Linked DNA regions of Homo sapiens: region 2 is linked to region 1. The links come from fine-mapping of genetic effects on gene expression. A gene starts in region 1. The other region holds a variant in brackets. All regions are shown on one strand. Distances are between the middles of the regions. Region 1 holds the start of SIAH2 (siah E3 ubiquitin protein ligase 2). Region 2 holds the start of LOC101928105 (a long non-coding RNA gene).

Region 1 (10,854 bases):
CACTATGATTGTGTCTGAGAATGGCCACCGCACTCCAGCCTGGGCAACATAGTAAGACCCTATCTCTAAAAATAAAGATAAAAATAAAAACAGCACATATTCATTATCTCACAGTTTCTGTGTTCAACTCAGCTGAGTCCTCTAGTTCAAGGTGTCACAGGCACAATCACTTGTGAGCCAGGGTTGCAATCATCACAAGGCTCGGCTGAGAGAATCCACTTCCAAACTCACTCACTGTTGGCAAGCCCAGGGTTCTCACTAGCTGTTGGCCAGAGACATCAGTTCCTTGCCACGTGGACCGTTTAGCAGAGCTACTCCCAACATGGTAGCTGGCTTCATCCACAGAGAGGGCTCAGAGAGTGTTACAGACTGAATACTTGTGTCCCCTCAAAATTCACATATTGAAACTGTACTCCCTAATGTGATGATATTAGCAGGCAGGGTCTTTGGGAGGTAATCAGGATTACAGGAGGTGCTAAGGGTGTAGCCCTCATGGAGAGGGTTGGTATCCTTAGAAGAGTCCTGAGGGAGCTTCCTTCCTATCTCTGCTACGTAAGGACACAGTGAGAAGGCTGCCATCTACAAACCAGGAAGCAAGCCATCGCTAGACACCTGTGGCACCTTGACCTTGGTCTCCCCGTCCTCCACAACTGTGAGAAATAAATGTTTGTTATTTAAACCACCCAGTTTATGATATTTTATTATAGCAGCTCGAGCTAAGACAGCAAGCGAGAGGAACGGAGGGACAGTAAGACAGAATTCATAGTCTTTTTTAACCTAATCTCAGAAGTGACATTCTATCACTTTGACCATATTCTGTTCACTTAAAGCAGGATCAGCCCTCATTCACAGGAAAGGTGTTACATATTGGGCGACACCAGGAGGAGGGATCCCTGGGAGCCTTCTTAATGATGACTTCCTACAACTCTCTTGGCCTCTCTGTACCTGTTTTGTCATCTATAAAGATCTACCCTATAAAAGACATTGTGAGAATTAAGAGAATTAAAATATGTAAAGTACTTGGAACACTCCCTGGTACAGGGTGAGCACTAATTAGCTAAGTGTGGATACAAAAATAATGCAAATACATAGAACTGCTCTTAGTACACAGTGCTAAGTCCATGATGGTTGTTCAAAAAAATGCTTGAATTAGGAGTACTTGAGTATAGGAGTTTGAGGCCAGCCTCGGCAACACAGTGAGACCTCTTCTCTACAAAAACTAAAAAACTAGCAGGGCGTGATGGCACGTGCCTGTAGTCCCAGCTACTCAGGAGGATCCTTTGAGCCTGGGAGGTTGAGGCTGCAGTCAGCCATGATCCAGCCACTGCATTAAGCCTAGGTGACAGAGTGAGACCCTGTCTCAAAAAAAAAAAAAAAGATTTGAATTAAGAGACCTACAATTATTCAAAAGAAGTTTGAGCATTTGGAAATTACCCCAGAAACAGATGAAGTTAAAAGTTCCTACTATAATTACCAGGGGGCCTTACATCACCTCCAGATTTCCCACAAGCTTCCCCTGATGAGGAATTTCCATGCAGCAAGCTCCAATGCATACCTGAGTCATCTCTAAAAAGCCAACCACAATTTGCTCTGCAAATGCACATTTGCCTGATGGCAGAAGTTGCCTGATTTGCAAAACCACACAATTTGTAAGTTACAGAAAAAAGGGCAAGAGCTTGTCTGCCTAGCTGGAGCATTTCTCACTGTGCTCAGCAGTTTAGTGAAATTAGGAACTCACCTGTGAGGTGTTTTTTTTAAGACTCACCCTGCTATTTTAAGGAAAGAAAAGGCTACTCAGTACACCCCTAGTCTTTCAAGCTTAGCATAGAGCAGATGGGTTAAGGAGAGGTGTCCTGCTTGACATATGCAATCTGGGACTCAGTAGGTGGGCGAATGAGACCAACCTCTCATACAGTAGATGTGGTAAATGAGTCATGAATCAGGAGATAACAAAAGGCTGGACCCTGCTCCCCCAGACCACAAAGTCACTCACTAAACAGGCCAAGAAGCAGCAGCGACACTCCAAAGGGTAAATAAACCTCCCAACAACTCAACTCAGCACACATTTTGAGTACACGCTAAATTCGACCTCTGAGCGGACTGCCCGCTGGAAGAGGAGGCTCTAGCTCATAGTGCCCGGTATGCAAAGGTCACCTTTCTTTGTTTCAAAAGTCACCAAGGAAGGAGGAAGAAGAAAGGCGACTGGGAAGACCAGCCTGGTCATTGATGTGGCTCACATAGCAGACCTATCCACTCTCCCCCTGCCTACCTTCAGCAACTGCCCAGAGTTTTTTTGTTTTGCTTTTGTATTTTAATTACCCTGGTTGACTTAATCAGGTGTGCAATGATGTGAAGGAGGAAGAAAGAAGAAATTTCTCTATACCAGGGGAGGCATCTGCCAGGGTAAGAGTGGATGGGTTCGCTGTATTTTTAGAAAAATAAACCAAATTCTCTCTGCAGAGAATTGCTTTTCCTGTTATTTCTTTCAACACCTCCCAAACCAAATTGTTTTCTGAATGACCAGGGCCTATCTAGCTGGAACACTTAAAGCTCGTGTCAATGGGGCAAGGGTGAGGACTCCAGTCTCCTAATGAGAGCTAGTAAGAAGCCGTGGGGATGGAGGTCATCACACAGAGAGGCTAGAAGTGGAAGGAAAGAAAATGTGTTCCATTAATAAATTCCAAATGCTTTGATTTTAAATTAAGAATGAAAAATATTACATTTCCTCCAATAACAGTAAAACAGTAGGTGATTTTTGTGTTATCACTTATATTTTGTGTCATAAAAAGGTGAAAATGAAATAAATAGAACATGATTTAATTTTTCTCTCTAGACCAGCTAAGGAAAGAGTTTATGTAAAGTTTGCCCACAAAATTTAGTGCTTTATTATAGGCTGAACAACTGTTTTCTGACTCTGTTGAGTGTGCTAATCTTAACTGTTTAACAAGACTGTAAGTAGGAATCAGGCATAATTTAGAGGCATACAGACTAGTAGTTAAGAAGGGCTCCTAGCGTGTTCCCACATTCTCAGCTGTGTGATCTTGAGCAAAGTAACCTATGTCTCGGTTTCCTCAACTGTAAAATGGAGATAACAGTAGTATTCATCACAGAGAGTTATGATAAATACTTAAAACTATCCATGCCCAACATACAGTGGGCACTCAATTAACATTAGTTATTATTTTATGCTCCCTACCTATCCAAAAACTCAGGTTCAGCCATGTTACTAAAGAGCTTCCAAAAACCTACAAAACCTAGTGTTGTTGTGTGTTCTTAAAAAAACAAACAAAACCCTACAGTGGTTTACCCCTATCATTGAGGTAAATGTCTTATTAAGCCAGTTGAGGCTCCCCTTGTGCTAACGCCACACCCCTACACTCCCGTTATATCCCCTCCAAGTCCCAATGCAATCCCAGAATACATGCTTTCACTCTGTGCTTTTTAGCTCCTGCTATAATGCCTGCCCACCCCGTGGTATCTGAAATCCTTCTTCTCCCACGAGTGCTTGGTTATTGGGCCTTGCTCTCTTACTAGAATGTAAACTGCATGAGAACCATTCTCAGAGCTCCAACAGTAGCTGACACATGATAAATGCTCAGGAAACATTTACTGAACGATTGAATACACCTATTAAGTTTTTTCAAGATTTATACCAAATTCCATCAATTCCATGCATGTATTCTTTCTACAGAAGCCCTTTGTAAGATTAAACTTTATTTCTTCTGGGCTCTTACGCCATATTTCTTGGACAAATTGTATTCATTCATTTTAAACATCCACTAATATTTTTAAAAGATAAGAGCTAATGTTTAAACAGTGCTTATGATGGGCGAGGTTGTTTTAAAAGCTTGAAATATATTAAACTCATTTACTCCTCACTGCCCCACCTATAAGATAGGTATTTTTTTTTCCACTTTTACAGTTGGAGGGAACCATTTTTCACTCAGTCCTAACAGTTGGTCCTTACCTCTGTGTCTCCTATAAATTTCCGATTTCTACCTAAGGTAACCCTTTCCCCAATTCCGGAATCGTTGGCTCAAGCAAAGTCTGCAGAAAAACAATTTTAACTCGGAGCACACAGTTACATTTGGACATGCGGTTCACCCCGGGCAACCGTGCCCTCTAGCGCTTCTGCTGGGCGCGCAGGGTGGCCCTACGCCTCGCAACAAAGACTCGGACTTCGGCCGGCTCTCTACCAAGCGGACGCAGCGCCTTACACTGGAGTTTCACCCACTGTCTTCAGAGACCTCACGACCCAACCTACGTTTCTGACATTTCTAGATGATCTCGAACTCTTAGCCAACGCTGCCCATGAGCTCCCTCCTCGGCCTGCTATACGAGCCAGGGGCGCTCAATTCAACGAAGCTTCCTCCTGGTCCGCTGGGAAAGGAATAAAGGGAGCTTACATCCTCCCCACCGCCCCCCTCTTTACTCAACCCCACCGTTAACTGTACAAAACTAGGTCCTGTGCCCGCTGCAGACCCAACTCGAGCCCCTCGCCCTGCTCCCACCCAATGCTTCTCGTCCTGACTCCGAACACAGAACGCGGGTGGCCGCTTCGCCCTCTTCTCCTGCGTGCTGGTGACTCAGCCCTGAGAAGAGAAACCTCTCGGTTTTTTCCGACTAGTGCAGGGGCGCCCGCGCCCCGCCCCTGCCCGCCCGCGTCCGGTCCCACCCACCGTCCACGCTCCCGCCCCGCCTGAAGTTGCCTTTCTCGTTTGAGCTGAGGGACGCGTCAGCCAGGCACCCCGGGGTGTGGCCAGAGGACTTCGGCGACGCTTCCCCGAGAGTAGCCCCCCTCCTCAACCCAGAAAAGACAACCCCGCGGGGCTGCAGCGAGCCAGGCATGCTCACTGGCGCAGGCCCGGCCCGCAGCCCGAGCAGGAAGCGCCGGCGCTAGGCGGCCCCCTGCGCTGCCAGCTGGAGCCGGGCGGAGCCAGCGCCCCGGCGCAGGGTGGCTCTGCCAGTCCCCGCGCGCCTGGGCGGCCGCACACGTGTCCAGGCGTCACGTCCGCGCGCGCCCCCGGGGCTTGCGTCAGCGGCTGTTCCAGAAGCGGGTGGGCCAGGGCTCTGCGCACCGCTGGGGTTCGGGGCCCGGGACGCCGCCGGGAGGAGGGCACCGCGCGGGGTCCGACGCGGAGGCGTGCTCGGAACGCCGGGGGCTGCGGAGTGCATCAGCGCGGTCCAGCCCTCCGCCTGCCGGGCGCCGAGCGTCTCCGCCGCCCGGACCTGGGCTGGGCGCCGTGGCGTTGCCTCGGAGCTCGCTGCCCGCGGGGCGCGCACCGCCTTGACCCGGGCGGCCCCGCGGCAGGCAGGCGCCCGCAGTTCCATGGTTGGTTCGGAGCGCGATGAGCCGCCCGTCCTCCACCGGCCCCAGCGCTAATAAACCCTGCAGCAAGCAGCCGCCGCCGCAGCCCCAGCACACTCCGTCCCCGGCTGCGCCCCCGGCCGCCGCCACCATCTCGGCTGCGGGCCCCGGCTCGTCCGCGGTGCCCGCCGCGGCGGCGGTGATCTCGGGCCCCGGCGGCGGCGGCGGGGCCGGCCCGGTGTCCCCGCAGCACCACGAGCTGACCTCGCTCTTCGAGTGTCCGGTCTGCTTTGACTATGTCCTGCCTCCTATTCTGCAGTGCCAGGCCGGGCACCTGGTGTGTAACCAATGCCGCCAGAAGTTGAGCTGCTGCCCGACGTGCAGGGGCGCCCTGACGCCCAGCATCAGGAACCTGGCTATGGAGAAGGTGGCCTCGGCAGTCCTGTTTCCCTGTAAGGTAAGCCCAGGGACAGCCCACGTACCTCCGCCGGTGACCTCAGGGACTCCGGTATCCGCCAGCCCACTCGCAGGCCCGGAGAGGCGGGCGGCATCTCTCATTTAAAAAAAAAAAAGAAAAAATGTTTACACTTCGTCCACCCTCCCTCAAGCCCACTTTGGGTGTAGGTCTGGGTTGACATTTACCGAGTAATAATTGTTAATAGACAATTAACAGATTAATTGGCATTTGCTGATCGTTAGAACATCGTAGCTCACCCGGCCCAATGCCCGCGTCCTCTGCAGACGTGTATTCGGGTACTCTCGGTAGGGCTGGGCCGCACCAGTAAAACTTGGACCGAGAAACTGACTGTGTGGGGATTGAGGAGGGAGGAAACGGGCGAGCTAAACGCCCCCTTTACCAGCGCTGGGCTCGGCTGAATTGATAATTGGAGTCCTGCACCCCGCGCCTACCGTCTGCGCACCCCTGACACGTGGGAGCTCTCGGGATTGTAGCTAAAAAAAGGGCGCCTACAGCCTGTTTTCCTCTAGCTAGAAGAAAACCCTGCAAGCCACGCCTTTTTCTCTCCTAGCCTTCCAAAGACTGGGAAGGACTGAGGAGTTGTGGCTGCGTTGTTGTACTAAGTGGGGTGAAAACAGTCAATCAAGAAATTAACAAGGGCACTCAAGAGCTGTTGTTACAGTTGTTTAAAGCTCATCACTTCATTTTTTATTTAATGTAAAAAGTTTTCAATGCCCTTGCGAAAAATGCAAGCCACCAAGACAAGAAGTAAAATGAAAGACCAAGATCTCTCCCCTCCTTTCCCACCATTGTTAGGTTTAGTGTGTATCTTTTTAAACTATATATACATACACCCTCGCAGCTAAATATAGAATCATAGATGTCAGTGTATGTCAGGGAGGTTTTTTAATACCCACACATAGATGTAAGTTTTTCTCCAAAAATGGCATCTGCAACTTGCTGTTCTTAAATTCATATTATCACACATATTTCTCTATGCCTGAAACCTAGTCGACTTCATTGTATTTTAAATGGCTGCATAGTATTGCATTGTGTGGTCATATTATAACATTTGTTTACCTGCAGCTATTACGTGGAAACCTTCAGGAGCAGTTTCACAGACATACTTGTCTACGTTATAACCTAGAAGTATACTGTAAAGTCATTTTCTGAAATTAGAAGTGGAGATAATGTCACTAATACTTTCCAGTTTTTTTGTAAAAGTAACTTGCGCTGCCTCTTGGGCCATTTAAGCTGTCTTGCATTTCTCCTTGGTGCTGCTTATTTTATAGGACAAGAGCTCATTTTTAAATTAAAAATAATCCACCAGAGAATTCAGGCTTGGGACTCAGGTCAGTAAAATGAGTGCTTTAATTTGGTCTGCTGCCCTGCTGCAAATCAGGTTTAAAATAGCATATTTAAATAAGAGTTTGAATCGGTGTTTGGACTAGGGTGTTTCAGGCAACCTTAATAAATTGCTGTTAACCCCTCCTCATATAGTGCTTACTAATTCACTCAGCCCAGTTTCTCAAAATTTAGATAAAGTATTTGCATAGTTGTCTTAGGGTTGTGAAAAAGGTGACAACCTAGTGGTTGGAAAAGGTTTGGTGGTAGTTAACATAGAGTGGCTATTTGATGCTTGAGATATATTGCAGGGGTGGGGGATGCCCCATAGGATTTCTGGGGAGCCATTTTCTCACCCCTTTACTTTCCCTTAAACGCGCAGCGGCTAACAAAAGAAATGGCTTTTAGGTGAGTTTTAGTTCACAAATGAGCATTTGATATTAGTCAGTAATCCATAATTTGTTTTTAAAATGTAACCATAATAGAATTGTGTTGTTCCCAAGAGAAAGGGAAGGAAACAGTTATGCTATATGGAGCATGAAGTTTCACTTTCAGGATCTAGAACTCTGGTTCCTATGAAAGCATACGTTCTTTCCTAACGTGAAACAGGCTACTGAAATCAACCTTGAAGAGTAGTTCTGGGAATCAGGGGTTCTCAGCCTTTCTGTACATGTCAGTGGTTTTCTGAGTCTCTATTCTATAAGAATGCAGTGGGGTAAAGCTATTACTTTGCAAGCTGAAATTTAAAAGGGCCAATTATTCCCCTGCAGACCAAGAACCAAGCTTAGGATGTGATCTTGGGGATGCTTTTGTGTGTGCATGTGTGTGAGTTGTATAAAGCTGGGGTGTGTGTCCCTCACCTTTGGTTGATCAATAATCCAAACTATTGGCAGGGCAGCTCAGCCAGTTAGTCTGGATAAACCAAACTTGAATGTATACATAGGCCCAGCGACCAACCAAGATGTGTTAGTTGTAGAGGATGAGAAACAACAGAGAGCCGTAAGGCCTGTATCAAACTTAAAACAAGGCAGATCTGTTTACCTAGCCCTTTGGCCTACAGTTTGAGGCTCCTAGAAATTATGGGACTGCCTTTTTACTGTCCCCACCTGCTCTCAGAATCTCTCATGGGCTGGCTCATGTGAAAAAAACCAACGTTGAATAAAGTACCAGAGCCCACATCTCAAGAGCTGCCACTGTTTGCCTGAAAGACCACCTCCCAGGGCCTTGATTTCCTCATCTATACAAATGAGAGATGAATCTGCTTGACTTCTAAGGACCTGTAGCTTCTAGCATTCTATGAAAAGAAGGGAGGCTATCTGGAATGTTATTGGATGCCCTCTATCTGCCAGTTACTTTGCAGGGGTCAGCTTTTACTAGTTTGCCTTTTTTTTTTTTCAGATGAGGAAACTCATGCCTACAGAGTGGTTAAATGTGAAGTGACTTGTCAAATCACACAGCTAGTAAGAGGACCAGTCCAAGCACCTGCATCTCAAAGGCACAGATGTTTTGTCCTACACCTTACTACGTAGGGATTTCGAATCTGAGTGTATACTCAAGATTCTGAATCATAACTCAAGGTTGACACCAGTAACAAAACCGTCTGGTTGGATGAGTTCACCAGATGGGCCTCTTATGGGACCATCCCAAAATGACAACATACATACTCACTATGAAATTCATTGGCAGGAATTTTGTAGGGCATGTAGGGTAGGAAGATGGGAGGGTGGGGGAAACCTACAAACCTAGTATTTTGTGGGGTATCATCACAGCTCTGGACTGCTTCAGTTGGCAAAAAAATGGATGTATTGCCAAATAACTATCCCACTTAGGTTTAGGGTAATTAATTAAAGGCTAGAGTGTTGCCAGCACCTTTGATATGGGGAACCGGATGCATTATTAGCTCAGATCTTTGGGTGTGGTGACTCATGCCTGTAATCCCAGCACTTTGGGAGGCAGAGGTGAGCAGATCACCTGAGGTCAGGAGTTCGAGACCAGCCTGGACAACATAGTGAAACCCTGTCTCTACTAAAAATACAAAAATTAGGGCCAGGCGCAGTGGCTCACGTCTGTAATCCCAGCACTTTGGGAGGCTGAGGTGGGTGGATCACCTGAGGTCAGGAGTTTGAGACCAGCCTGACCAACATGGAGAAACCCCGTTTCTACTAAAAATACAAAAAAGTTAGCTGGGCATGGTGGCACATGCCTGTAATATCAGCTACTCAGGAGACTGAGGCAGGAGAATTGCTTGAACCCGGGAGGCAGAGGTTGCAGTGAGCCAAGATCACGTCATTGCATTCCAGCCTGGGCAACAAGAGTGAAACTCAGTCTCATTAAAAAAAAAAAAAAAAAAAATAGCCAGGTGTGGTGGCAGGCACCTGTAATCCCAGCTACTCAGGAGGCTGCGGCAGGAGAATCGCTTGAACCCAGGAGGTGGAGGTTGCAGTGAGCTGAGATTGTGCCACTGCACTCCAGCCTGGGTGACAGAGCAAGACTCTGTGTCAAAAAAAAAAAAAAAAAAATGGAATGTCTAATAGTGTATGGCTTTCTTCCGCTTGGGGTATTTTTTAATCCATTCTGTGGCTTGTTCCATGCCTGAGAACTTTTGACATCCTGTGCCCAGACTTAAACTCACCCCTTCAGTGTGTGGGTTTAGGGGGAGAAGTGAAGGTTGACACATTCATATCAACAACATAGTCTACTTTACCATCCAACGATGTATTTTGATATCAGCCAAGTATTTCTCTCTACAACTGTGAGCAATGCTAATCCACTCCAGCCTTCTTACACTGTAATGATACCTTTTCTTTGTCCTCTCTGAAAGTTTCTAGTAGCATATCTCCAAATAATTATTGAATTTGAAAGCCTCAGCTGGACAAGTCTTCTCTGTGGTTGAATTGTGACAATGTCTGTGTTCCTTAAAAAAATAAAAAATAACATAAAACCAAGTAAGGTTAGACAAAACAGTTGAAAGTTTAAAATCCCTTGGCCTCATCTAGTTCAGTGGAGACAAACTTTCTAAATGGGAGGAGGGCCATGTAATGAGAGGAGAGGAGAGGAGAGAAGTATTTGATGCACTCATGGCCTCAGGGTCAGGGAGACCTGGAGGAGCAGTGGAGATGGTGGAGAGCCAGAGAACAGGTGCCACCTCCCAAGAGGCAGCCTTTACTCACCTCTGGCTGATTGGTGGGGTTGGGGATGTGGGTACAGGCATATCAGACCTTTAGATTTTTTTCAAGAAAAGCCAGAAATCTGGATCTTTTTTTTTTCCTTTAAGAGATGTCATCTCACTATGTTGCCCAGGCTGGTCTTGATACTCCTGAGCTCAAGCAATCCTCCTATCTCGGCCCCCCAAAGTGCTGGGATTACAAGTGTGAGCCACCGTGCCCAGCCTGGATTTTTTTTTTATGTTAAATATCTCGATTTTTTTTCTAGCATTGGCTGACTTCACATGTATAACCACCACTTGCAGACAAAGCGAACCACCACGTCTCCAGGCCAAATTCCAGCTGCCAGCATGCAGCCTCTGATCTGATTCTCTTGTAGAAGCATTCCTTGAGCCTGGAAGTTCTCATTTAACTCTTGCCATACATGAACTTTGGAACTCTGTTAGGCCCTAACTGTTGGTGATTTTGTAGCTTGTTTTCTTTTCATCTTCATTTTGCCAAGAGAATATTATTTTCTGGCCATCAGGAACCCTCAGATGATGGCCTTGTGACTAGATGTTTGACTCTATACAGGTCAGTTT
Region 2 (10,854 bases), 23 kb after region 1:
ATCTTCAGATATTGAGAGCTTGTTTCGAGACTCTGCCAGGCTCTGGGCTATTTCTTGCTATTTTTATTGTGTGTGTGTGTTTTTTTAAACTGGACAGAAATGTCTCACCCATCACTCACAGAAGAACATGAGGAGGCTCTGTATTCCTAGCCACACCCTAGATTTAAAACACAGTTAATAGGGATTTGTTTTTCAGGCCTTATAAAGTAAGGAACACAAAGTATGAATACACATGGATAAATAAATTTGTTTCTCCTGAGTGAGTTTTTTTACAGCCAGGCTTTAGAAATTAGTTCAGAGTTTTAAAAGATGAACAAACAATTCCTATGGGCAAATAAGTAACTGAAATATTTCTGCCAATTTCTGTTAAATATTATAATCCGCTTAGGTATGGGGAAGTGGGGGTTGGAGGATGAGCTACATTTCTTTCTTTAAGCCACTCTCCTTTCCGATTAGGGGAGACTAATCCCCCTGAGAGTGGAGGCTGTCATCCTTGCTTCGGAATCCTCTGAGTGACTGTAACTTAGCGTCTTGTATGGAGAAGTCACATAGTGCATACCATCTGCTTGTTGCTAGTGATAAATTCATCTATGAAGGTTAGAATTTGACCGACTTCAAGTTTAAAAGGGGGATTATTCTATAAAGCAGGGTAGAGAGAAGCAAAAACAGCAGTGGTGCTTTTTTTTTTTTTTAGCAACTGGACATAGCATCTTAGAAAAATGACCTGGCCTTGCCCTTATTTGGTGCCTTCATGTCTCAGTGGAGCAGGGGAATCCAAGTGTAGTTAGCCAGACAGTTCCCCTGCCATTCTGTGCTCCAGGGGTCTAAGGCTGACACCTAGTTTCACCTGAAAAGGTGATTCAGGTTTCTTAATTCTTTACAGAACAGCTTAGTACTCAGGGCAGGTGTCTACTTGTGGGCTGATCTCCATCTGGTATCTAGGAATTAACACTGTCATCCTTGTGAGAGTCTGGAGTAGAAGTTCAGTTCCTCTTGGTGTGGTCTTTTGCCACGGCAGGTATGATTTATCCATTAGGAATGTCATCCCAAGTGCAAGGGAGAAAATGATTTTGTTCTCCTACCCTATTAAGGCAGTGTCTGAGGGGCAGACTGATCATGTCAGCAAACTTGTCTAGTTCTGCTTCCTCCCGGGCCTGTTGTGAGGACCTGACATACCTGACCATGAAATGATGTGCTCTTGAATCTGAGGAAGTGTTGGGGGTCAGCAAGCTTTGAGAGGAGGGTTAGGCCCTTCTCATGTTAACCTCTACTGGCCAGAACCAGACTGACCAGTAGTCTTCTGAGTTAGTTAAGTAGCTCTTGGATGTGATTTCCTTCCACCCAAAAAATATGGGCAAAGCCCCCCAGAGGGAAGGTCAAAAGGATGCAGTGGGGTAATATTTCTAGCTGTATGAAGGGGTCTCCAGGCCTCCGCTGCCCTAGCCTGGTGATGCCAGCAGCAAAGAGCAAGGAACCAAAGGGCAGCCTTCCCCACGGCCTGCCTGCCAGTCACCAGTTTGAGCCAGAAAGCAGTGGAGGGGGACGACAGAATTATACTGTTGTTAATATTGTCTATATGTGAAAACTAATCTTGGGATAATATAATATTCCTTGCCCAACCCCATCCCCACCACCCAAGCAATTGAATTCTTTAAAAAACAGCTTCACAGAAAATATGGGGAAGACCAGCTTTTATAGGGCTTGCTCAACAATTTTGAGATGTGCACAGTAAGAGAACTTTAGTTCTGATCCCTTTGACAGCGGAACAGGGGGCATGGAAAACAGCGTATTTCTGGTTCAGGAAATACCCTTCATTTTATGCATGACAGCATTGATGATGAATAGAGACGGAGACTTTTAGTCTTGAATATTTCACTTGCTTTGAGCAAAAGTAGTTAAGAACACAGTTTAAGCCCAGGAAAATGGAGTAGTTAAGTACTCATAGAGGGTTGAAGCAATAGAAGTTTTGAGAAGGCCCAATGGCTCAATGCATTTCTTTCTTTGCAGTATGCCACCACGGGCTGTTCCCTGACCCTGCACCATACGGAGAAACCAGAACATGAAGACATATGTGAATACCGTCCCTACTCCTGCCCATGTCCTGGTGCTTCCTGCAAGTGGCAGGGGTCCCTGGAAGCTGTGATGTCCCATCTCATGCACGCCCACAAGAGCATTACCACCCTTCAGGGAGAAGACATCGTCTTTCTAGCTACAGACATTAACTTGCCAGGGGCTGTCGACTGGGTGATGATGCAGTCATGTTTTGGCCATCACTTCATGCTGGTGCTGGAGAAACAAGAGAAGTACGAAGGCCACCAGCAGTTTTTTGCCATCGTCCTGCTCATTGGCACCCGCAAGCAAGCCGAGAACTTTGCCTACAGACTGGAGTTGAATGGGAACCGGCGGAGATTGACCTGGGAGGCCACGCCCCGTTCGATTCATGACGGTGTGGCTGCGGCCATCATGAACAGCGACTGCCTTGTTTTCGACACAGCCATAGCACATCTTTTTGCAGATAATGGGAACCTTGGAATCAATGTTACTATTTCTACATGTTGTCCATGATGTGACTTTCGTAAACCTTCAAAATTATTTGGGCATAGTGCTCTATGTTTAATAAAGGTTTTTATAGATGTTTTATTCCATATGTCTTCACAAGTCAGGACCCACAATTACCCGTGTTTTGTTTGAACAGCAGTGTCCCATCTGGCTTCGACCCAACAAAGTTCATTAACCTGGGATGAATGGGGTTGGCCTGTTGGTGATTTGGATGCTGTTCTGTGATCTAAAACAACTCTTATTGAATTGTATTTACTCCCTAAACAACACTTGACAGGCTGTTGCACAGGGCTTCTATAGATCAGTGTGTTAGGAATGGGAGGCCCCTTCCTGCCTGCCTTCCCATATTGGTCCCTTGACATTGACAAAAGCACAGTGACTGTCAGCAGATTCCTTTACTTTTGTTTGTGGGAGGTAGGAATTGTTTTAATGCATTTTAAACAGTGTTTCTGAAATTGGATGGCTGGCTAATAGACACTGAATCACCCGGAGTGCTTATCTTAAAATTGCAGATTTAGGGAGCCTGCCAATTTAACAGTCTCATCAGGTGATTCTTTTCAACAGTAATGTTTGAGAATTACTGGGTTAAATTGTGGGAAAGGGTCCAGATTTTAAAGGTGCTTTAAGGTTGCCCTCTGCCGATACTGTTTGTCTTTCTACTGTTTCATCCCCTAACTTCCCCCAACCCTCAAATTAAAACTAGAACTATAGATCCACATGAACGCACGCCTGAGATTTGGCCACTCACCTATGTTTTGGGTGGATTGCCTAGGAAAGCAAGTCATATGGCCATTGATAGTTCTCATGTAATTAGTTTTGCTCACCACTAGTACAGATGACCCGTTTACACGTGGCTTCCCTCGGAAGCCCTCCTCAACAGTAGCTGGTGTGAAAGACTAAATCAGTAGAGTTGGAAAAGCTTTATAACCGGTGTGTCATATGCTTGCTATTTAAAGCTGTGTGTTGGTTTTGTTTTTCTGCCACATTCACTAGTTTTTTAATAAATATTTTCCAAAAATGGATATTGTGCTTCATTTCCCTAATTGAGTAATGGGTATTTATTGAGCATCTACTGTGTGCAAGTGCAATGAACCTTCGTCACTACATCTGGGGTTGGAACTTTCACTGTTTGTTTCCACTGTGGAAACAGTCATTGGGCCAAGGTCATGGCACGGGTCCATGACAGCACTGGGGTCCGGGCTCATGTGTCTGAACCACTGACTGTCAGTGCTGCAGGTCTCCTCCCAGGGCTGTCGTTTCTATCTGACAGTGCCAGTACCTGTGCAATAAGAGGATTGCTCCAGCTTTACAGAGTCAGAAGGAAGACGCTTGGCCACTGCTGACATCCAGAGTGCTGGCGTTGATCCAAGCTGACCCACTCCCTCAGTCCCAACCCTAAACTCTCAAAAGAATTTAGAGGATTAGGGCCAAATGCTCAGCAAGGATTGAAGGCTGCTTACCTCAGTGTCCCAATTTCTTTCTTTTTTTTTTTTTTTTTTTTTGAGACAGAGGCTGGAGTGCAATGGCACTCACTGCAATCTCTGCCTCTAGGTTCAAACAATTCTCCTGCCTCAGCCTCCCAAGTAAGTGGGACTAGAGGCCTATGCCACCACACCCAGCTAATCTTTGTATTTTTAGTAGAGATGAGGCCAGACTGGTCTCGAACTCCTGACCTCAAGTGATCCACTTGCCTCGGCCTCCCAAAGTGCTGGGATTAAGGCATGAGCCACCACACCCAGCCCTCAGTGTCCCAATTTCATTAGCATACTACCAAATGGAGGTGATGGCTTTGGAGTTGATTTTGTTTTTTAAGTGAGATACAGCGTTGAGTTTTTAGCCAGCACAGGGCTCTGACATTTAAAGAATTGCTAAAGTAACCTCTTCTGTAAAAGTGAAAAACGGTGCCCTACACAAAAGTAGGGGTTTACAACATCTGTGGTGAATGAATAAAAACCACAACTCTTATCACTAAGAAAGTCACATTTCAAGTCCATATACAGAGGAACCTATGAAGGTGAAACTAGGATCCAGGAGCAGATGAACTCTGACCCTCAGGACCAGAGCCAGTCCAGATATGGCCTCCAGGGCCCTCACGGCACCCATGCAAGGTGCAGTGTGCATACACTAGCCAAGCTTGGCAGCATCACTTCATGTCCACGGCTTACCCTCTTACTACGTGTGGTAGAGGAATCAGGACTGATTGGTTAACAGTGCATAAAACGCAAACCTATAAACAAAAGACATAAAGAAGGAGAAAGTGGACACAAGTTATTCCAAAAGCACAAAAAGAGTTTTAGCCCAAAAAGGTAAAGTGATGGGCCAGCAGCCACACAGTGCATTACTGGCAGCACTGGTTCTATAATTCAGGCTTCTTGATTCCCCATTCAAACTTGCTCCTAGAACTTAACAAATGAAAAAGTTGTAAGCAACGCAACTCTGAACTTTTATTTTCCAGAGTTACGTAGTTCCCTTTCATCTCTGTCACTGGAAATCTGTAAACTTAACCTTTACTCTTGACTTTCTTGAAACTGTGCATTTTCTACCAGAAAATAAAAATCCCCAGGTTATTCCGTTTTAACAGGAAGTGAAAACAGCAGAAAAAGATTATGTAAATTAAAATGCCTTTTTATGCAGTTCCAATTGCAAATGCAATTTAAAACATGATGAGTATATTCCTTGACTTGTTGCTTTTAAAAAAAGTGAGAAAAAAAAAGAAAAGTAATGATAGGCATTTGTCAAAACTCATCACGTGGTCCACTTAAGTACCATATTTTAAAAAATAAAATAAGAATATTTTATCTTTCCTGTCCTAGTTCAATATTCTAATTTGGTAATCTGGCGATTAAACGATGGTAGATTAAGCCTGTGTCTTATGACGCATGAGTCATTCTAAAGAAAAAAGGGTTCTCAAAATACCTTGGGAGAAAATGTTAACAGTCATTAATTCTGGGTGCCTAGAACCTGGGTATATGGTATATTATTAATTGCATTGTTCTACGTTTTTAATTTTTTTCAAAAAACCAACCAACCTTGAGATTAGGGGTTCCCAGCGTTCTTGTAAGGAGGAACTGGTCTTGGTTTCCCTGAATCCAGAAGACTTAAAGGATTGAGACAGTGGAGTTCTTAGAGGGAACTGTCCAGGGGATTATGGGAAATACTTCGGAGAAGAGGCACCGAAGCATCAACTATCTTGGAACTCTGCCAACTAGAACCTCGGCCTCAACTGACACATCCAAACTAATGGCTGAGTGTCTTTTTTAGCAGCATCAAGCAACTCCTTTACAATACCACCCAAAGTAATTTTCCT[G/A]AAGAAATTCTCCTTGTATCTAACTTCATTCAGGTTCTTGGGGCTTGCCAAATAGCCAGCAATGTGACCTTAACTTGGTCAGTTGACATCTCTGGTCTTAAGTTTCCTAATCTGCAACATTTGAAGGTTTATTTTCTAAACGTTTTTACTTTAGTACTAATTTCTGTGAGACAATCAAGCTATTCAATGTTAGGTTGAGGTATGTAAATCATTCCTGCCAGCCTTTGTACGAGGTGGTTCTGGTATCACTGTGGCCCAGCATGTGTCTGTCTATCAGTGTTGGCAGGTGAGTCATGCTCCAGCTACCTCTCAGATTCCCATGGTTTAGAGCTAGGGGTGGTGCCTGGGTAGAGAGACCAGTTTTGCTTTGTGGCTCTGGCTTGAGAGGCCTGTGGCCTTGAACCTTCCTGATTCATGCAGGCTGTGCTTGAAAGTATGATTATAATTTCACTGACCTGTGAAAGGGAGGCAAGAGTGCTTAAAGGGAGAAATCTAATTCCCCATATTGTTAAACCTTCTTCTAATTTGAAGCTTAAAATCTCTTATTTGTGAATACCGTTAATGTGTCTTGGAGTCTTCAAATGACAAGCAGAAAGAACCTTGATCCCATTGACACCAACACCCACCACCACTACCATTTTACAGAATAAACAAGTAAGACCTACAGAGGGAAACACACTGGCCCCAAACCACACTGCTGATTAGAATTTTCTGTGATGATGACATGGTGTCTTCTGTATTGAGTAAAAGGGAAAAAATTACAAAACAGCTTAAAGTACAAGCCAACATTTTACCATGACTAAGGGAAGTGGCTCCCAGTCTTGATTCCCCATTTCCATTGCCACCATCTGGGCCAGGACCACTGTTGGGGCTCCTAACTGTTTGTCCTCCTTCTTCCTGCCTGCTCCAATGTATTCTACACATAGGCAGAGGCTCTTTTGACATGAAAATCATTGGCATCACAGCTCTTCAATATTCTCTTGCGGTGCACCCTATTTCTTTTCCTTCATGGCACCACAATTGTGATTACATATTTTTTTTTATTGTTCAGCGCCTGCCTCCCCTTGACAACCTGCAGGGTAATAGAGACAATGAAGTCCCTGGCACCTAGGCACCCAATTAATATCTGAATGAATAAATAACTACTAACAGGCTAGTGTGAGAGCAGCATTGAAGTCAACACTTTAAGAGTTAAGGTTTTCTGGTTTTGTACCAAAAGTCCCTGGGGAAATTACGCAAGTAGGCAGGGAACAGAGATGGGGAGATAATCTAACAATCCAGAGAAGGGAAGAAACAAAGGGTTTCTCTGCCCCTGTCATCCTCCAGGCAAGGTCACTAAGGCTGGTTTGAAGTTTCTGTGCCTTGAAATTTCTTATGTCATGGAGTCACCTGACATTCAGATCAAAGGCCGACTCCGCTCTATGTTTGATGATCCTTGCAGCAAGCACAGATCAAGGTTCCTGTGACCTGCAGCAATTGGATTACAAGATTAGATCAATTTGCAAAGTACACCAAGATCACAGCAGTTGCCATCCATTAGGTACCTATCGTGTGCAAAGTGCTTTGTCTGTATTAACCCATTTAATCCTCTCAATAAAATAAGCAGTGTTTATTATCCCCATTTTGGAGTCGAGGAAATGAAGGCTCAGAGAGATTAAGTAATTTGCCTACACTCACACAGCTGGTAAGAAACAGAATTGGAATATGAACCCATCGTGGAGTCCATGCCCCTTCACCATATCACGTGATCCATCATTATTCTTATTTGGCTTTCACATATTTTGACCATCAGCAGAAATATTGCTTACTTGTAACAGATAAAGATGAACAAGATGGAGGGGTGCAGGATGCTTGGTGAATACAGAACATACCACCTGTGCTTTGGAACTGCCTTCCCCACTGTCATGGCATGCTAGAAGGGGATGGAGACCTAGAAATCGTTCAGACCCTCACTAGTTAAAGTGTGGTCCGTGCACCAGCGGCATCAGCATCACCTGGGAACTTGTCAGAAATGCAGCATCTCAGCCTCCACCCCAGACCTCCTGACCAGAATCCGCATTTTAACACAGTATGCAGGTGATGTGGATGCATGTTCAAGTTTGGGAAGCACTGGTTGGATCAAAGGTTATCACCCCACACGTCCTTTGGAATCATGTGGGGAACTTTAAAGAATGCCAGGACCTAAGTTAGAATTCTTGGCAGTAAGGCTGAGCTTCTGTGTGCTTTTTAAAGCTTCCCAGAAGGGACCAGCACACAGTCAGGGTTGAGAACCTCTGACCCAGTCCAACCTCACTGCCTCATTTTCTCTTGTATTTCTCATACAGCCGCTGAGACAAGTGATGTCACCTGCCAATACTGTAGATTGAATAACCAGGGAAGGCTGAGGAATGCAAGTGAATGTAAAAACCACCTGGAGGGAAGCATTGCAGCAAGAAAGGAACAGCAAGTGCAGAGGCCTGAGGCAGAACCAGCAGGGAAAATGCTTTGAGGTGAGGCAGGTAAGGAGCTAGAGCCTTGCCCTGTGAGGCCAGCTAGGGGTCTGGCTTTCTTTCCAGGTACAATGGGAGGCCACTGGAAAGTTTCAAGGAGCATGGATGATGGGATTCGGGTTTTTAAAAAGAGCTGTAGCTGTTCAATTAAAACAAAACAAAACAACAAAAACAATGATTATAAAGGGCAGGAATGGAAGCATTTTGGAAGCTATTGCATTTCACCCAGTGAAAGATAATTATGGCTTGGACAGAGTGAGCAAAGGTAGAGATTAACAGAAATGGGCATATTTGGGCTATGTTTTCAAGGTAGAGTTAACAGGAGTTGCTAAAAAGTTGGATGGGTGGGAGAGGGGTGATGATTATAGGAATAAGGAAAAGAGAGAATCAAGGATGATCACTCCTAGGCTCTCATCCTGAGTAAATGGGTAAGAAGTTCCATGTATTGGGGCAGAGACTAGTGAAGGAGCCAGCATAGGGCAGAAATCTAGAGAGACACATGGCTGAAGACATCAACCAGACAGTTGTTTGTATGAGCTTGGAGCTCTGAGGAAAGGCCAGGATGGAAATACCAAAATGTGTGCACCATCACTATATGTATGGTGTTTAAGCTGTGGGGTGGAAGTGAGAAGACCCCGGGGTTTGGGCAATGGAGGGAGGTGCATACAGGCAGAAAAGAGGGTGGGACTCAGGCCTATCTCCTGGGACTGCCAACCTTTTAGAGGTCACATGAGGAGCCAGAGCCTGGAAATGAGGGTGGATAGAAGAAGTGGCCATCAAGATGAGGGGAACTCCTAGACAGTACGGCATCACAGAACCCCAGGAAAAAAATCTGGCTCAAGTAGAACAGAGGAGTTAGCCACTGAGAAGACAATCGAGGTCATGGCAAGATGTCAAGAGCAGTCTCATGGAGTGGAGAAGACAGAAGCCCAGAGGAGAGCAGGTGAGGGAGAGAACAGGGCATGGGTGAGGAGAGGAGGCAGGAGCTATAGCTATAGAGCTATAGACAAGTTGCTATAGACAAGGCTTTTAAGAAGTTCCGCAGAGAAGACGTAGAGAAATGAAGCAGTTGCTGCAGGAGAATAGTGGGATCAATGAAAGATTTTTTTGTGTTTTAAAAATTGGAGCCACTAGAGCATGGCACTGTGCCAATGGGAAGGATCCAAAAGAGAGAGCGAAATGGATGATGTGGAGAAGGAGGCAATCACAGCGGGGGCAAAGTAATCAGAAAGACAAGTTTCCAGGGCAGATTACTTACTTATGCAGTAGAGATGGTCAGGAAGCAGCCATTATTGAAATAGAGAGAGGTGGGAAAAAAATTGTGCCAACAAGCAAGGGTTGAAGCAAATTATGTTTAGAAGGCCCTGGTGAGGGCGTCTGTGCATATCCAGCCCTGAACAGGAGAAAGGCACTGGCTGCAGCTCAGTCTAGAACATCCCAGGCATCTGAGAGGTTTACACCTTAGCAAGCTGTGGTGTTTTTCTAGGTTCCATGAAAACCTGGAAGAAATATTCCTGAGGACCATCCAACACCATTTCCCTGAGAGACAAGCTGTAAGTGCTGTTCTAGTTACAGATCCGAGTCCCTGGTACATTGATATCAAGTAAGGGTGCATGCAGCTCAGAAGGCAGTTTCCATTACACTGGACAAGAGTGTGGCTGCCTGAGTCCTAGAACTGCAGTGGCTTCTGCTGACAATGTGAGGAGTAGCTGCCCTGTCCAGAGTGTGGCCCCGCACGCTGCCCCCTCCCCTGGAGGGACTGAAGAGAACAGCTTGGAGCATGCCCTTCCCTTTCCCTTATCTCGCCCACTATGCTAATGCTGCTCATCCCTCAAGATCCGAGTTATTCCTCCTCAATTCAATACACACCAATCAACTGCCCTGTGCTTGGTCCTGTACTTTATATCCTTGATATGGTTTAATTTTCAAAACAAAACACCTTGAGGTGGGTATTATCACTCCCATTAACAAACAAGAAGGTGGGGGCTCAGAGAGGCTAAGTAACTTGCCCAAAGTCACACAGCTTGTAAGCAGTGAAAATGGGATTTACACTCAGGAATGTAGCCCTTCCAACAGCCCTGCTGCCTGCAAAAGTGACTCAGATATGGACTTTACAGTCTAGCAGAAGTCTGAAAGCATCAAACAAAGAGGCAACTTACAGTAGCATGAAATATGCAACCACAACTACATCAACTATGTTTGCAAAGCAAGTTAAGACAAGGACGTACAAATTGCTATGGAGTTCAAAAGAGGATTGGAAAAGGCTTCCGGGAGAAAGCAGCGCGTGCATTGGGCCTTGGGTGTTGGGTAGGTTTTTGCAAGGCTGAGGTAGTTAGGAGGATGTGCCAAGAGATCAGCCTCTCCTGGATCAAGACCAAACCACTCAATGCCTAAGTCCAGCCTTGTCCACCTCCCATCCACTTCTCAGGGCTATTCTTCTCTCACACTTCCTTTGTTCCCGCGTTCCTGACACCCACACAAGGTCAGACACGTAGAACG

Evidence for each region. PIP is the estimated chance that this variant, and not a neighbour inherited with it, causes the effect. A credible set is the group of variants that fine-mapping cannot tell apart.
Region 2: its variant is the best candidate, but not a certain one, in a credible set for the expression of SIAH2 in sun-exposed skin (GTEx, PIP 0.55).

What each region holds. Positions count from the first base shown.
Region 1 is chr3:150,757,344-150,768,197 of GRCh38, reverse strand. It overlaps SIAH2 (siah E3 ubiquitin protein ligase 2), which reads left to right and starts at 5,029. Exons shown (of 2, transcript NM_005067.7): 1 at 5,029-5,765. The coding sequence starts at 5,349. It overlaps SIAH2-AS1 (SIAH2 and CLRN1 antisense RNA 1), which reads right to left and starts at 6,261. Exons shown (of 3, transcript NR_187306.1): 1 at 6,218-6,261; 2 at 5,791-5,859. It overlaps LOC124909447 (a long non-coding RNA gene), which reads left to right. Exons shown (of 2, transcript XR_007096132.1): 2 at 558-682. RefSeq lists enhancers at 4,034-4,093, 4,612-5,558, 7,375-7,474, 8,709-8,768 and a silencer at 4,604-5,503.
Region 2 is chr3:150,733,852-150,744,705 of GRCh38, reverse strand. It overlaps SIAH2 (siah E3 ubiquitin protein ligase 2), which reads left to right. Exons shown (of 2, transcript NM_005067.7): 2 at 2,008-3,581. The coding sequence ends at 2,565. It overlaps LOC101928105 (a long non-coding RNA gene), which reads left to right and starts at 5,721. Exons shown (of 3, transcript NR_121657.1): 1 at 5,721-5,855; 2 at 8,191-8,364; 3 at 9,842-10,235. RefSeq lists a silencer at 3,760-3,839 and a cis regulatory region at 10,709-10,854. The variant G/A (reference allele first, on the strand shown) is at 5,867.